Linked DNA regions of Homo sapiens. The protein of the gene in region 1 interacts with the protein of each later gene in a pairwise test. Each region holds a gene or a part of one and is shown on either strand. Other genes may lie near its edges.

What was found. Proteins that work in one complex are often made in the same cells at the same time.
Region 2: the proteins of TMEM185A (region 1) and KLKB1 interact in binary tests that used the Homo sapiens proteins (3 or more experiments, as listed by UniProt).

What each region holds. Positions count from the first base shown.
Region 1 is NC_000023.11:149,600,786-149,607,809, reverse strand, and holds part of TMEM185A (transmembrane protein 185A), read left to right. Parts: intron 1-3,739; coding exon 3,740-3,823; coding exon of another isoform or gene 3,824-3,838; exon of another isoform or gene 3,839-4,104; intron 4,105-7,024.
Region 2 is NC_000004.12:186,222,793-186,230,506, forward strand, and holds the start of KLKB1 (plasma kallikrein isoform 1 preproprotein), read left to right. Parts: upstream 1-4,714; 5' UTR 4,715-4,795; intron 4,796-5,402; 5' UTR 5,403-5,403; coding exon 5,404-5,461; intron 5,462-6,078; exon of another isoform or gene 6,079-6,197; intron 6,198-7,714. UniProt on the Homo sapiens protein: Participates in the surface-dependent activation of blood coagulation. Activates, in a reciprocal reaction, coagulation factor XII/F12 after binding to negatively charged surfaces.

The DNA of each region.
Region 1 (7,024 bases):
ATAGCCCAGCCAAGTTGACACTCAAAACTGACCATCTCCCCACCTCAGACCCCATGATTTAGCACCTCCCCTGCTGTCTGGTTAGCTTATCCTGATGTGCCCCTGTGTTTGTTTATTCATTCAATAAACATTTATCAAGTATTTACTAGATGCCAAGCCCTTTTTCCCTAAGCATAGAGGATATGCAGATGAATAAAATACCAGGACTAGTAATAATAGTAATGAAAGTAATTGCAGATAACGTTTATTGAGCACTTACTGTGTGCCAGGCATTGTGCGAGGCACATTACATGTGGTAGTTTTCTTACTAACTAACTCTGTGAGGTAGGTCCAGAGAAGATAAGTCATTTGTTCATGGCCACATGTGAAGGGGCAGGACCAGGATTCCGTTTGAGTCAGCCCGACTCTAAAGCCCGGGCACATAACTACATAACTGCATAGAAGCTGAGGGCCCAAAGCTGAATACTGATGGGTTGAGGGGAGAACTAGAGGCTGTAGATGCCTGGTTTTGAGCCGTGTGGATGAAGAGTGAAGGGAGAAGACTGCAGTTGGCTTAGGAAGTAAACATAGCAGCTGTAGGGTGGGTCAGGCATATAAGCCTAGACCCCAGGTATGGGCGTGAGGGGAAGGTATGTAGACAGAGGGACGGTGATGGAGCAAGGCCCTGTGGGACTCAGGGAGAATGGGACCTAGAGCACCAGGAAGGGTTTGGCCTTGAACAAGGGGAGCTATTCCCTGATTTTCATGCTGGTGGAAAGGCCACAGCATGGGTATAGTGGTAGGTAGGAGTGAGCCGTGGAGGGAGAGTATCTGATGGTCCACTTTCACCCTCCCTACAATTCCCAGTTTATATCAGGGACTTGAGCATCCATGGATTTTGGTATCCACAGGGGGTCCTGGAACCAATCCCCCACAGATACTGAGGGACAACTATACAAGGACTAGGACTGCATTGGGCCTGAATTACAGAAAGTAAGTCTTTCATATATTCACACTCTAGGCATTCCTGCCCTTGGAAGAAACAACATACCAGGAGCTGAGCTCCCTCCTCCTGTGATGCAAGAACAGTACCTATGTTGGTGAGGGGGTGGTCTGGAGTAGGCTCATACAGAGATGGGAAGGAGGAGTTGAGGGTCTGCCAGGAAGCCCTGTGTTGGGAGGGAAGGGATGGCATTTTTGGGACACATTGAAGCCTAGAGGCAGGAAACACTCCATCAGCTGAGTGGACTGTGGCGATTCAGATCCGACGGGAGCACAAGGTGGAAAGGAAGGAACTGTGGGAGTTGAGAAGAGAGGGAGCCTCTACAGAGGGATTGGGGCAAATAGGGGCCACGTCCTCAGCCCACAGAGCATGTGCTGAAGTGCCCCAGGCACCCCAGTGCACTCACAGGGCACCAGGGGATAGTGGACATTTTGAGGAAAACAGTAATACCTGACATTTGTTGGGACACCATACAAACTACTAGCTTGAAATAGTTTACAGGTTTATTTTTAGGCCACACTGCATTCCTTTCAGTGACGTCGTATCTTTAAGAAGCTGGGTTTTCAGCAGTTGCTGTGAAAACAAAAAAGGCTAATGCTGTGTGAAAATCCGGGTGAAGAACAGGTAACGAGTGGGAGCACCTTGTCTGATTCCAAGGCGTGGGAAATGGTGAGCTACCTGACAGGCACACGCATCCCACTGGGAATTAGTTTTGGTTATTTAAGAATAATATTAACATTTTTCTTTAGATTTATATGAATTATTTTTTCTAGTGGCTACTTAGAAATACTTACTAAGTTAGATGTAATTACTTAAATCAGTGCAACTGTTGGCATTCCCAGCCACATTAGGGATTTCTTTTGGCCTAGAGGTCTATGGAGGAATTACTAAATTCCCCATGTACCTATGTACTGAGAACTTTTGGGAAGCTCTGGGCCTGGTCCCAGATTTCAATTTTGTGGGCAAGAATGTACTTTACCAGAGTGAGGAGCAGCCTGCAGGGCGTTTGGGCTGGAGGCGGGAGGTTAGTAAGGGGTTGCTGAAGTGGTAGGCGGATGGTGCCGAAGAAGGCCTCACTAGGCAGTCATCATCAGGATAGGAAGTGGGCACGGGATTCAGGAGAAATCTGGACTTTACAGTGGACAGGATGTGGTGACTGAACGTGACAGTGTGGGAAAAAGAATGCAGGGTGATTCCCGGGCTCATGGCTTGAGAAATGAGACCACTGTTGTGCCTCCAAGTGACATGGGAGGCTATAGAAAGTGACATGGGAGGCTATAGAAAGTGACATGGGAGGCCATAGAAAGTGACATGGGAGGCCATAGAAAGTGACATGGGAGGCCATAGAAAGTGACAAGGGAGGCCATAGAAAGTGACATGGGAGGCCATAGTGACATGGGAGGCCATAGAAAGTGACATGGGAGGCTATAGAAAGTGACATGGGAGGCTATAGAAAGTGACATGGGAGGCCATAGAAAGTGACATGGGAGGCCATAGAAAGTGACATGGGAGGCCATAGTGACATGGGAGGCCATAGAAAGTGACATGGGAGGCTATAGAAAGAGGAGATACAAGGTTCTAAGTGCAGGCGATAATGATCTCTATTTGGGACTGGCTTCATTTGAGGTGCCTTTAGGAGAGCCGAGTGGCCTATGCACAGCTGGGTCTGCTATGCAGCAGGAAGGCTAAGTTGGAGACAGATGTGAGAACTAACCATGAAGGAGGTAATAATGCAGACCAAGGGTCTGGTTGAAATTTCTTCTCCCCCAGTCCAGGGTGCAGCGGGTGAGTGAAAATATGTGTGTTTGTGTGTCTGTCTTCCTAGTCGGGAGAGAAGACTGAGTTTGTGGCTCTGCGGAGCATCACCATTTAAGGAGGGGGAAAAGGAGACAGAAGGAATTACCAGAACACTCCAGAGGGCTCCAAGACTGTATGGTGGGATCTAGATGGCCAGGAGGAGGGGAGCAAAAAGGAAAGAGTCATCCACAGTATCAGTAGGATGCCAGTTGAAGTGTTTTTGCTGCCTCCCGGTTATCGGTGACTTTGATGAAAGCTGTCTTCTGGTGGTCATGGGGGTGGAGGCCAGATCACAAGGAAGCTGGGAATGGTAGATGAGATAGTAGGGGCTTGCATATTCATTACTGTCTCGCAGAGAGAAACCTGAGGCTAAGAGGGGTCTTGGATCAAAGGATGGGGTGGGTTTATCTGGTTTCGGGGCTTTTGTTTTTAATGAGAAGGAGTCATTTCTGTGCTGCTAGGAGGGATCAATGGAATAGGTGGGGTTAAAGATACAGTACGGAATCTACAGTTGATGGCTTGATGTGACAAGGTCCTCAAGGAGCCTGAAAGGAAGGGGTGGGGTCCAAGGGCAAAACCGAGGTATGAGAAGAAGGATGCACAAGGATGGTTTCGAGTAGACAGTATTGTTGGTAGGGACATGAAGGAAGTTTAGTGGTCTATTGCAGCTAGCCTGTGTTCCCAGTGAACCTGGAAACAAGGTTCTCATCTGTGCTCAGGCCTCAGGCCAGAAAGGGCAAGGCAGCAGAGGGGCAAGGCAGCAGGCTGAGCCCCATTTCCCCTTGCCATAATACTGCTGTGCCCCTCTGGTACCGAAAATCAGGAGTTTCCAGTGCAATATAATATTATACAAGTTACACTGTATTATAATGTGTATTGTCTTTTAGTGTGTTAACCAAATTACTGCAGTATTAAATGCAAATTATACTTTGTTTAACTGATTCTTCTCTTCATTTTTAGTTAGAAATCCTGTGTTCTGTCAACATTCTCCAGTTTATATTCATTGCCTTAAGACTGGACAAGATCATCCACTGGCCCTGGCTTGTATGTAACTTTTAAAATCCTTAAATAAAGTTCTTTTTTATTATAAAAGTAATTCATATTCACTGTACAAAGCTTGGAAAAGACGGACAAGCAGAAGTAATAGCCTAATAGTCACCCATAATCCCACCATGGGGAGATAACATGGTTAGTGTTTTTATGTCTGTGTTTTATACAAACAGTTTGGATATAACTGTGTGCACCATTTTGTATCCTGATTTTTTTGTTTTAATGTTGTATCATAAACATTTTATCATGTTAATAAAAGGTCTTTATAAACATGACTTCTAAAGTTTAATTGATACAAAATATTCTTCAAGTGCATGTATCAGACCATCCTCTTATTTCTAAAATATGGTATTTCCATTGTTGCCAGTGTTGAATGATTTTAAATCATACTGCAGTATATATGTTTATGCATTAAAATTTTTGCCTTTTGTTTTTTGGTTGTTTTCTTAGGAAATAGTCCAGAAATAGTGTTACTGAGCTAGAGGTTGGGAACTATTTGAGATTCCTATATACGTATACTGCACTGCCAACTTGCTTTTCCAAAAGCCATACCTGGCCAGGCGCAGTGGCTTACACTTACAGTCCCAGCACTTTGGGAGGCCGAGGTGAGCTGATCACTTGAGCTCAGGAGTTCGAGACCAACCTGTGCAATGTAGCAAGACCCTGTCTCAAAAGAAAAAAAAAAAAAGCCATACCCATTTACACTCTTGCTGGTGGTGGCATCTATGTCATGCTTCTAAACTGTGACTTCAGTTACTGGGCATTTGGTTGAAATTAACTGTGAATAAATGGGTAGATGGATGCAGAGATAGAAAGATAAGTGGCAAGGTAGAAATTAGAGAACACAGTATAGATTCCACTATTAAATGCATGGAAAAAAGATGGAGACTAAAGGCAGAAGAGTTCCATTGCCACTGGGAGGTAAGGTCATGCTAGTGTTTTTGTTCGGTTTTATTTTCTCTGTTGTTTGATGTATAATTTTGCATACAATATATTTTATGTATTAAATATAGCTACCCTTAAAAAGTGAAAAGTATAGTAAAGAATTGGGAGCAGAGAAGAAATGAAGGGAACCTAAGTATACTCCATATTTAAAGATGGGAATAATCACTTCTGCCCAAAGTCTTTGATAAAACATTCATAATAAAAAATATTCAGTCACTCATCCTACAACTTCACAGTGCTGTATCTGGAGAATGGTCATTGGGTTCAAAACTGTTTCTGTTGTGACGTGAAGGAAACATATCTAAACAAGACCAAATTTTTTCGTATAAGATACTGTCAGGGAAAAAAAAGATTAGTAATTTTGAGAGCTTTCCACAAATGAGAAGAAAGATTTTTTCTGCCCTTCATCCTCTGTAGATCCCAGTTGATGAAGCAGTCTGAGTACATGTTTCCCATAGTGAGCAAGAGAAAACAAGGAAGCCTATTGAGATCTAACATTCCACCCATGAAGGGAACTTCAGTAAAAAGGAGAATCTCATCACAGAATGGGGAACGGGGAAGAAAGGCTGTGCATAGACTCTGCAGAGAAACCTACAATCAAGAACTGGTCAGGAGAAGTAAAATTCGTATGCCAACTCAAATCATAGATCTAAAAGAAAATGTAAAACTATAGATCTGTTAGGAAATAACATAGGACAGAATCTTTGGGGTTTGCAATTAGGCAGAGAGTACTTAGAAATGGCACTGTTAATATGGTCCATACGAGAGAGAAATCATAAATTTGGACTTCCTCAAAATTAAAATGAAATGAAGACAGGCCACAGACTGGGAGAAAATATTTGCAAAGCACACATCAAAACACTGACTTGCACCCAGAACATACAGAGAACTCTTAAAAACTCAAAACTGCAAAAAGAAACACCTAAAAATTGGCAAAAGAGTTGACAATTTGCGAAGGGGATATACACATGGCGAAAAAGCACAGGAAAAGATGCTCAACGCCATTACAGGTTAGGGAAGACAAACTACAACCAGGATGAGGGCCCGAAACACATGGCTTCAGAATGGTGAAACTCAGCAACACTGACGAGGCCACGTGCCTGGGAGGATGCAGAGGAACTGGGACACTCCAGTGTTACTGGCGGGAAGGCAGGTGGTACGGGCACTGTAGAAAATGGTTTGGCCATCTCTGATGCAGTTAAAAGCGCACTTCCCGTGGGACTTGGCTGCCCCACTCCTGGGTATAAGATTTACCCCCAGAGAAGTGAAAGCGCGCAGCCTTGTAGAAACCCACACACCAGTGTTTGTAGCAGTCTTGTTTGCATTTTGGATAGCGGCCTTGTTTGGTTTTCACAAACCACCCTCAGCGGACAGTCAGATAAACTGTAGGCATCCATACAATGGAATACCACTCAGATCTGAGAGGGAACGACCTGTGGATACAGGGAGGGAACAACTTGGATGAATCTCATTAGAGACATTATGTGGATGGCGGGAAGCCAGTCTCAACAGGTTACTTGTCTCGCGATGCCATCTACATAAAGTTCCAGCAGAGACAAAAGTACAGTGAGAGAACAGATCAGTGTTTGCCGGGGCTAATGGTGGGGACGGTGTGATAGTGAAGGGACAGCACGGAGAGTTTTGCAGGGTGACAGACCTCTTCTGCATCCTGCCAACGGCTGTGTGAATCTACTTGTGTGAAGACTCAGGGAACTCACACCAAAGGAAGACGGTCACTTTTCCTACTGTATGATAGATAATTAATAAAAAGGGAGAACGGAGGAGTGTCGTCCCAGGAGGCAGGGCAGGAGGGCGAAGACGTGTCACAGGGGAGCCTGGCCAAGTGGCGCCCCCGGAACTCGTCCTCTGGGCTTGTGTGTGGATGAGACAAGGTCTACCTGGTACGACAGGGACATACTGGGAATGCGCCCTTGCCGTGGAGGCGGGGACCCGGCAGCGCTACGTATCCAGCATCAACCTGTATCCAGCATCAACCCGCCAAGTTCACTAACTTGGTAGGGGTGAGGTTAGGGATCCTTAGGAGCCCAGGCAGCCAGACTTTCTGGGGAGCCCATTCCCATTTGTGTTGCCAAAGTACCCCCAGCAGGTTGTGGGAATGTTGCCTGTGAAGAGAGTCTGTTGGGGTGAGATCTTGTGTGTGTGCACAGGGTGACAGTTGTGTCCCATTTCCCGGGAAGCTGTGATGGCAGCAGAACCTAGAGGAGCCTGAGAGAGTGTGGGAGAGTGGGC
Region 2 (7,714 bases), on another chromosome or scaffold:
AACTTGAGAATTCCCTTTAGCATTTTTTGTAAGGCAGGTTTAATGGTGTTGAAATCCCACAGCTTTTATTTGTCTGGTGATATGATTTGTTCCTGAACTTCCACCCAAATCTCATCTCGAATTGCAATCCCCAGGTGTCAAAGGAGGGACCTGTTGGGAGATGATTGGATCACGAGGTGTTTTCCCCCATTATGTTCTCATGATAGTGAGGGTGTTCTCATGAGATCTGATGGTTTAAAAGTGGTGGTTACCCGTGCGCACATGCTCTCTCTCTCTCCTGCTGCCTTGTGAAGAAGGTACCTGCTTCCCCTTCACCTTCCACCATAATTGTAAGTTTCCTGAGGCCTCCCCAGCCATGAGGAACTGTGAGTCATTTAGACCTCTTTTGTTTATAAATTACCCAGTCTCAGGTGATATCTTTTAGCAGTGTGAAAATAAACAATACAGAGAATTGGTACTGGCAGAGTGAGGTACTGCTATAAAGACAACCTGAAAATGTGAAGGCAACTTTGAAACTGGGTAACAGGCAGAGGTTGGAACAGTTTGGAGGGCTTAGAAGATAGGAAGATGTGGGAAAGTTTGAAACTTCCTAGAGACTTGTTGAATGGTTTTGACCAAAATGCTGATAGTCGTATTGACAATGAAGTCCAGGCTGAGATGGTCTCAGATGGAGACGAGAAACTATTGGGAACTGGAGCAAAGGCCATTCTTGCTATGCTTTAGCAGAGACTGGCAGCATTTTGCCCCTGCCCTAGAGATCTGTGGAGCTTTGAACTTGAGAGAGATGATTTAGGGTATCTGTCAGAATAAATTTCTAAGCAGAAAAGCATTCAAATATAACCTGGCTTTTTCTGAAAGCATACAGTCAAGTCATATGCGTTCACAAAGAGATGGTATGAAATTGGAACTTATGTTTAAAAGGGAAGCAAAGCATAAAAGTTTGGAAATTTTGCAGCCTGACCATGTGGTAGAAAAGAAAAACCAATTTTCTGAGGAGGAATTCAAGCCGGCTGCAGAAATTTACATAAGTAATCAGGAGCTGAATGTTAATTGCCAAACAATGGGGAAATGTCTCCAGGGCATTTCAGAGGTCTTCAAGGCAGCCCCTCCCATTACAAGCCCAGAGGCCTAGGAGGGAAAAATGGTTTCATGGGCCCTGCTGCTCTGTGCAGCCTTGGGACTTGGTGCCCTGTGCCCCAGCCACTCCAGCTCCAGCTGTGACTAAAAGGGTCCATAGCTCAGGCTGTCGCTTCAAGGGTGCAAGCCCCAAGCCTTGGTGGCTTCCACGTGCTCTTGGGTCTGCGAGTTCACAGAAAACAAGAGCTGAGCTTTGAGAGCCTCTGCCTAGATTTCACAGGATGTGTGGAAACACCTGGCTGTCCAGGCAGAAGCCTGCTGCAGGGACCCAGCCCTCATGGAGAACCTCTATTAGGGCAGTGCAGAGGTGAACTGTGGGGTTGGAGCCCACACACAGAGACCCCACTGGAGCACTGCCCAGTGGAGCTGTGAAAAGAGTTCCCCCATCTTCCAGATGCCAGAATGGTAGATCCACTGACTGGAAAGTTGCAGGCACTCAGTGCCGGCCCATGAAGGCAGCCGTAGGGGCTGTACCCTGCAAAGCCACAGGGACAGAGCTGCCCAAGGCCTTAACAGCCCACACCTTGCATCAGCATGCCCTGGGTGTGAGACAGGGGCTCCAAGGAGATTATTTTGGAGCTTTAAAATTTAATGACTTCCCTGCTAGGTTTTGCATATGCTTGGGACCTGTGGCCCCTTTATTTTGGCCAATTTCTCCCATTTGGAATGGGAACATTTACCCAATTCCTGTACCCACATTGTGTTTTGGAAGTAACTAACTTGTTTTTTATTTTAAAGGCTCATTGAGGGAAGGGACTTGCCTTGTCTCAAATGAGACTTTGGACTCGGACTTTTGGGTTACTGTGGAATGAGTTAAGACTTTGGGGGACTGTTGGAAAGACATCATTGGTTTTGAAATCTGAAAAGGACATGAGATTTGGGAAAGGCCAGGGGAAGAATGATATGGTTTGGCTCTGTGTCCTCATCCAAATCTCGTCTTGAATTGTAATCCCCACATGGGATTACATGGGAGGGGCCTGGTGAGAGGTGATTGGATCATGGAGGTGGTTTCCCCTGTGCTGTGATCTCATGATAGTGAGGGATTTAAAAGTGACAGTTTCCCCTGCACATACACACTCTCTCTCTCGTATCACCTTGTGAAGAAGGTGTCTGCTTCCCCTCTGCCTTCCATCGTGATTATAAGTTTCCTGAGGCCTCCCCAGCCATGGGTAACTGTGAGTCAGTTAAACCTCTTTTGTTTATAAATTACCCAGTCTCAGGTAGTATCTTTACAGCAGTGTGAAACTGGACTAATACATCTGGGAAATTCTTTTTGTCTCCTTCCTTTCTGAAGGACAGCTTTGCCTGATATTATATTCTTGGTTGCCAGGTTTTGTACTTTCAATACTTTGAATATATCATCCCACTCTCTCTTGGCCTACATGATTTCTGCTGAGAAATCCACCAATAATCTTATGAAGCTTCCCTTGTATGTGAAGAATTGCTTTTCTCTTGCTTCTTTGAAAATTCTCTCTTTGTCATGGTGAGGATTTCTTTTTTTTTTTTTTTTTTTTAGATGGAGTCTAGCTCTGTTGTCCAGGCTGGAGTGCAGTGTGCAGTGGCGCAATCTCGGCTCACTGCAAGCTCCGTCTCCTGGGTTCACACCATTTTCCTGTCTCAGCCTCTGGAGTAGCTGAGACTACAGGTGCCCACCACCACGCCTGGCTAAATTTTTTTTGTATTTTTAGTAGAGATGGGGTTTCACTGTGTTAGCCAGGATGGTCTCGATCTCCTGACCTCATGATCCACCCATCTTGGCCTCCCAAAGTGCTGGGATTACAGGCATGAGCCACTGCACCTGGCCGAGGATCTCTTTATATTTAATCTATTTGGAGTTCTTTTGGGCTTCATAAATCTGGATGTTTATTTCATTTATGTCTCCAAATTTTGAGAGTTTTCTATTCTTATTTTTTTAAATAAGTTTCTGCAACTTTCTCTTTCTCTACTTCTTCTGGAACTCTTCTAATGCATATTAATTTTCTTAACAGTGTCCTATAAGTCTTGTCAGCTTTCTGCAATTTTTATCATTCCTTTTATTACTCTGACTGGGTAATTTCAAATGACCTGTATCTGAGCATGCTGATTCTTTCTCCTGCTTGATCTAGTCTGCTGCTGAAGCTGTTTGTGAATTTTTTCAATTCAGTCATTTTGTTCTTTAGCTCCAGAATTTCTGTTTCATTCTTTTTTATGGTTCCTATCTATCTTTTTGTTGAACTTCTAATTTTGCTCATGTATTGTTTTCCTGATTTTGTTTACTGTCTATCTATATTGTTTTGTAGCTTATTGAGCTTTCTTAAGGCAATTATTTTTAGCTCTTGTCATGCAGTAAAGATCTCCATTTCTTTAGGGTCACCTCCTGCTGCTTTATTTCCTTCCTTTGGTGGTTTCTTGTTTCCCCGATTATTTGTGATCAGTGTGGCCTTGCACTGAAGTAGGCACCTATTTCAGTCTTTACATACTAGCTTCAGCAGAGAAAGCCATTCACTAGTCAGATTGACCAGAGATTGTTGGTGGGCTGTCTGTTGGGGTCTATGCACAGGATTTCTGCTGGAGTTCTAAGGTGGGAAGGGCTGGATTCTGGGTTCATTCACTGTGGTTGTCTGTATTCTGTGCACAAGGACTGGCTTGAAGCATGGATCCTTGGGGGCTGACTTGGCACTGAAATGAGCCTTAAGCCTGCGTCTGCAGGGGCCAGCCTAACATGGGGATCACCTGGCACCTGAGTTCATGGGGATAGGCCTGTTCCTGAGTTTATTCAGGCTGTCCTGGGAACAAGGTCCACTGGGGTGAGCCCAGCATCTGGGTCCACATGGCCCAGCATGGAGCCAAGATCTCTGGAGGCTGACCTGGTGCTGGATCTGCAGGGGATGGCCTGGATTCTAGGCCCATGGGTGCCAACTTGGAGCCTGGGGTTGCTGGGGCTAACGTGGAGGCTAGATAGAGTCTTGGGGGCCAGGCTAGAGCTGGAGCAGGCCTGAAGTCTAGGTTTTGTGTGGCCATCTTGGAGCCTGAAGCCCCAGGGGCTGACCTGGTCTGGGGTGAGCATGGGGCTGAGGCCACAGAGGCTGGTCTGGCCTGTGGCAGGCCTGAATCCTGGTGCTGGGGTTTACTGGAGTGGGCTTGGTGCTTGGGATCTGTGGTGAAGTTAGGTTCTATCTTAACTGTCCCTCCTCCATGCAAGAGGGCATCTCTCTCCATACTGTGCTGCCCAGGCTTGAAGGTGAGATGACACCGGTAATGTGAAATTGTCCTTCCTATACACTTCTATGTGTCTTTTCTTATTTCTGTGCTGCAACCAGGTGGCATAACCTCTCACCTGATTCCTTAGCTCTAGTGAAGTTATTTTCGTGCATGGATACTTGTTCGAATTGATGTTTCTGCAAGGGATGAGCGCTAGAAACTCCTGTTCTGACAAACTCCTATTCCTATTCTTGCTGACATCACTCCCTGAAATAGTTAATATACTTAACAGCTGAACACGGATAGGATGTTCATGGAATATGTTGACAGGACAAAAAGTTGAAACTGTTGGCAGAAACCCAAAGTCAATATTGAAGCCAAGCAAAATATTGCCTGCAGTGCCACATTAGAACAGCTTGAAGACCGTTCATTTTTAAGTGACAAGAGACTCACCTCCAAGAAGCAATTGTGTTTTCAGGTAGCAAATTTTTATTATTCTGATTGTTTCCAAATAAACTATAATTTTTAAGTATAATTTTTTACTTTATGAGAAAATTAATCATTTATATTCTAATTTCCTGAGTATGTAGAGAGTATAGATAATGTTCCTTTATGTAGAAATATTTAAATGTAAGATGATTTTAAATCAGAAAGAATATTTGATTGATTTAAAATTTTTAAATGGGCTTTAATATTTTCAGAGGTTTTCTTTACTTAGGGATTTTTGGACTGACATTATTGCCATTATTTATTAATTTTGTTTTTGCCCAAATCAAGAGGTTTCATAATTGTTTACTCTCTCTCTACCAATTCCCTTTCCAACATTACTAGCCACAGAGTTGGCCAATGAACAATAAACACAACAGTAGTCTGGAGGTCTCAATTTGTATCTTGGGAAGCATTATAAATTTTCCAACTCCCTAGACACAAATGTACCAAAAAAAAACCCTTGTTTTCTATACCAGTAATTGTGTGCTTTGTCTTGCAATTCAGACATTTACAAGAAAATCTAAATCACCTTAAATTAAGATTTATGTTAAATGTGGTCTAAAACCAGCAGAGTTATGTATTGTTTTCTTTTTTAGAATGATTTTATTCAAGCAAGCAACTTATTTCATTTCCTTGTTTGCTACAGTTTCCTGTGGTAAGTGAATTATCTATAAAACATGGAATTCAGGCTAAGACAGGAGTAGCCAAGCAAGTGGCACCACCCCTGGAGAAAGCTATTGAACATACAGCTTCGGGGGTGGAGATTGTCCCTGATGATTCAGGACACGTGTCTATTTAATGTTCCACAACAAGGACCACTTGTCAGGTATATTGCTGTAGACATATGTTGCAGACCAGAGGAAGGAGCTCAGAAGTAGGAATGTCTTGGGACTTGTGTTAACAAAAACTTCTGTTCGCAGATGACACTCTGCAAAGCAAAACTTGAAACAAAAAAAAATTAGTCCTCTATTTTTATTATCAACAGTAAAAAATTAAACTTTATCTGAAAATTCAAAAGAGTGCTAGGCATTTTATAGTGTCTGGGTCCAATCCAAGTATCTGTTAGGAACACCATACATAGTTTTACTCTGGACCGCTAGGGAACCATTTCAAAAATGAAAGTAACTGGTTTAAATTTAACTTAGCAAACCATGCATTTGGATAGTTCTAGGTGAATAGCTTTCAACACCAGATTTAGATCTCATTTCTCTATTAATTTCATTAATTTTTGGAGAATAAAAATGATTCTGGACATTTCATTAATCATTACAGAGGGAGTTTTCTCTGTGTCCCCACAAGGCATGATTCTGGGTCTATGGTGACTTAAGAGGGCCACACAACAATGAGTATTTAATTTTCCTCAGATGTATGGCTACAATAAACATCTATAGGTAAGGTTTACATTCATAAAGAGACCTTTTTTTTTCCAGGAAAAAAGACTTTTATTCCCCCTAAATCACAACTCCCCTGTGTCTGTCCCTCAACCCTGATTTCTCTTCTAAACCGTAATTTACAAACCCATGTGCAAACCCACTGAAAGGTGAGAAGGAGCATAAGCCAGAGACACTGGGAACCACAGCCAACTACAGGGGGTTTTTCATTTTTTTGTTTTGTTTTGTTTTTTGGCAAAATAAATCATGATTATGGCTAGGAAAATCAGGGATGTAAGTAAGCAAAAATTTAGAAACTACATATTGCATGTAGTCCCCAAATTCAGAAACAGTCATCGTTAAACATCTTTTATTTAGTCTTTCAGATATTTTTCTACATATACCTATTTGCACATTTCACAAAAAAGAGTTATTAACTGTGGACACTCTTTGACTTGCATTTTCCACTTATAGCTATCTTTTGGTGCAAATAAGTAATATATTTTGGAGCTTGCTATTCTTCTCTTTTTATGGTATTTTTGTGTGCACATTCTTATGCTCTTATTCAGTTATTTCTGTAGAATACAATTTTTGAAATAAAAATACTAGATTCAAAGGTGTGAATATTTTTGAAGGTTTTGTGGTGTGGTATCATGAAATTAGGTTTCAGAAAGTTTACTCCATAGTTGACTTTTTCTACCAGCTAATAAGAGTGCTCATTTACCCCACTTAGGCCAACTCTAACAGGCTTCTGTTGCTTTGCATCCTGACATATTTATCTTTCTGGAAACAGTGTCCTAATTTATTTCTGCAGAGCTACTGCCTCTCAGTTTTGGTCCATGTGGTTCTGGTGACCCTGATTCTTCTGCTGAACCAGAAAGTGCACACATCCTCCTGGCTGTGGTGACCCAATCAGAGCCAACGTCTTGCAATGAAGCTTTTCTTTAGACATCTAGAAATAAGACTCTTATGTTTTTTTTTTCCAATTTGACTTGAAACTTAAGACAATACACAGGCCTGAGTTGTTGGTACTATTTTGCTACTACGTGGAGCTTGAGAGTAATGGTAACACCAAGACTGGAGCAAGTGGAAGGAGACATATTGTCCACTGATGCTATCAGTTGAGCACAATGTGCAGTTACTTTTTAAGCCAGATTCACCATGGGCTTTTTGGCTCCTGAACCAATAGATTTCATTTGTTTTCAAGCCACTTTGTACTAGGTTTTCCATCATTTGCAATCAAAACCAGTATACAAACACTGGTTATTTAATTTTTCATTTTTGCTAATCTCAGGGATAAAATGGCTTCTAGTTGTTTTAACTTGGCTATATTTGTGATTCTTCCCATTTTCATATACTTACTAATCACTTCTATTTCTTTTGTAAATTATCTTTTCATATTTGTTATCTAATTCTTTAAAATTTGAGTACTTTAATTCTCATTATTGTTTGTGGAATTGTTAAACAAGACTGAATAATCTGCCCAAAGTCCATGGACATGGGGGCCCATGTAAAAGCTTTGAAAGCCACCATCATTA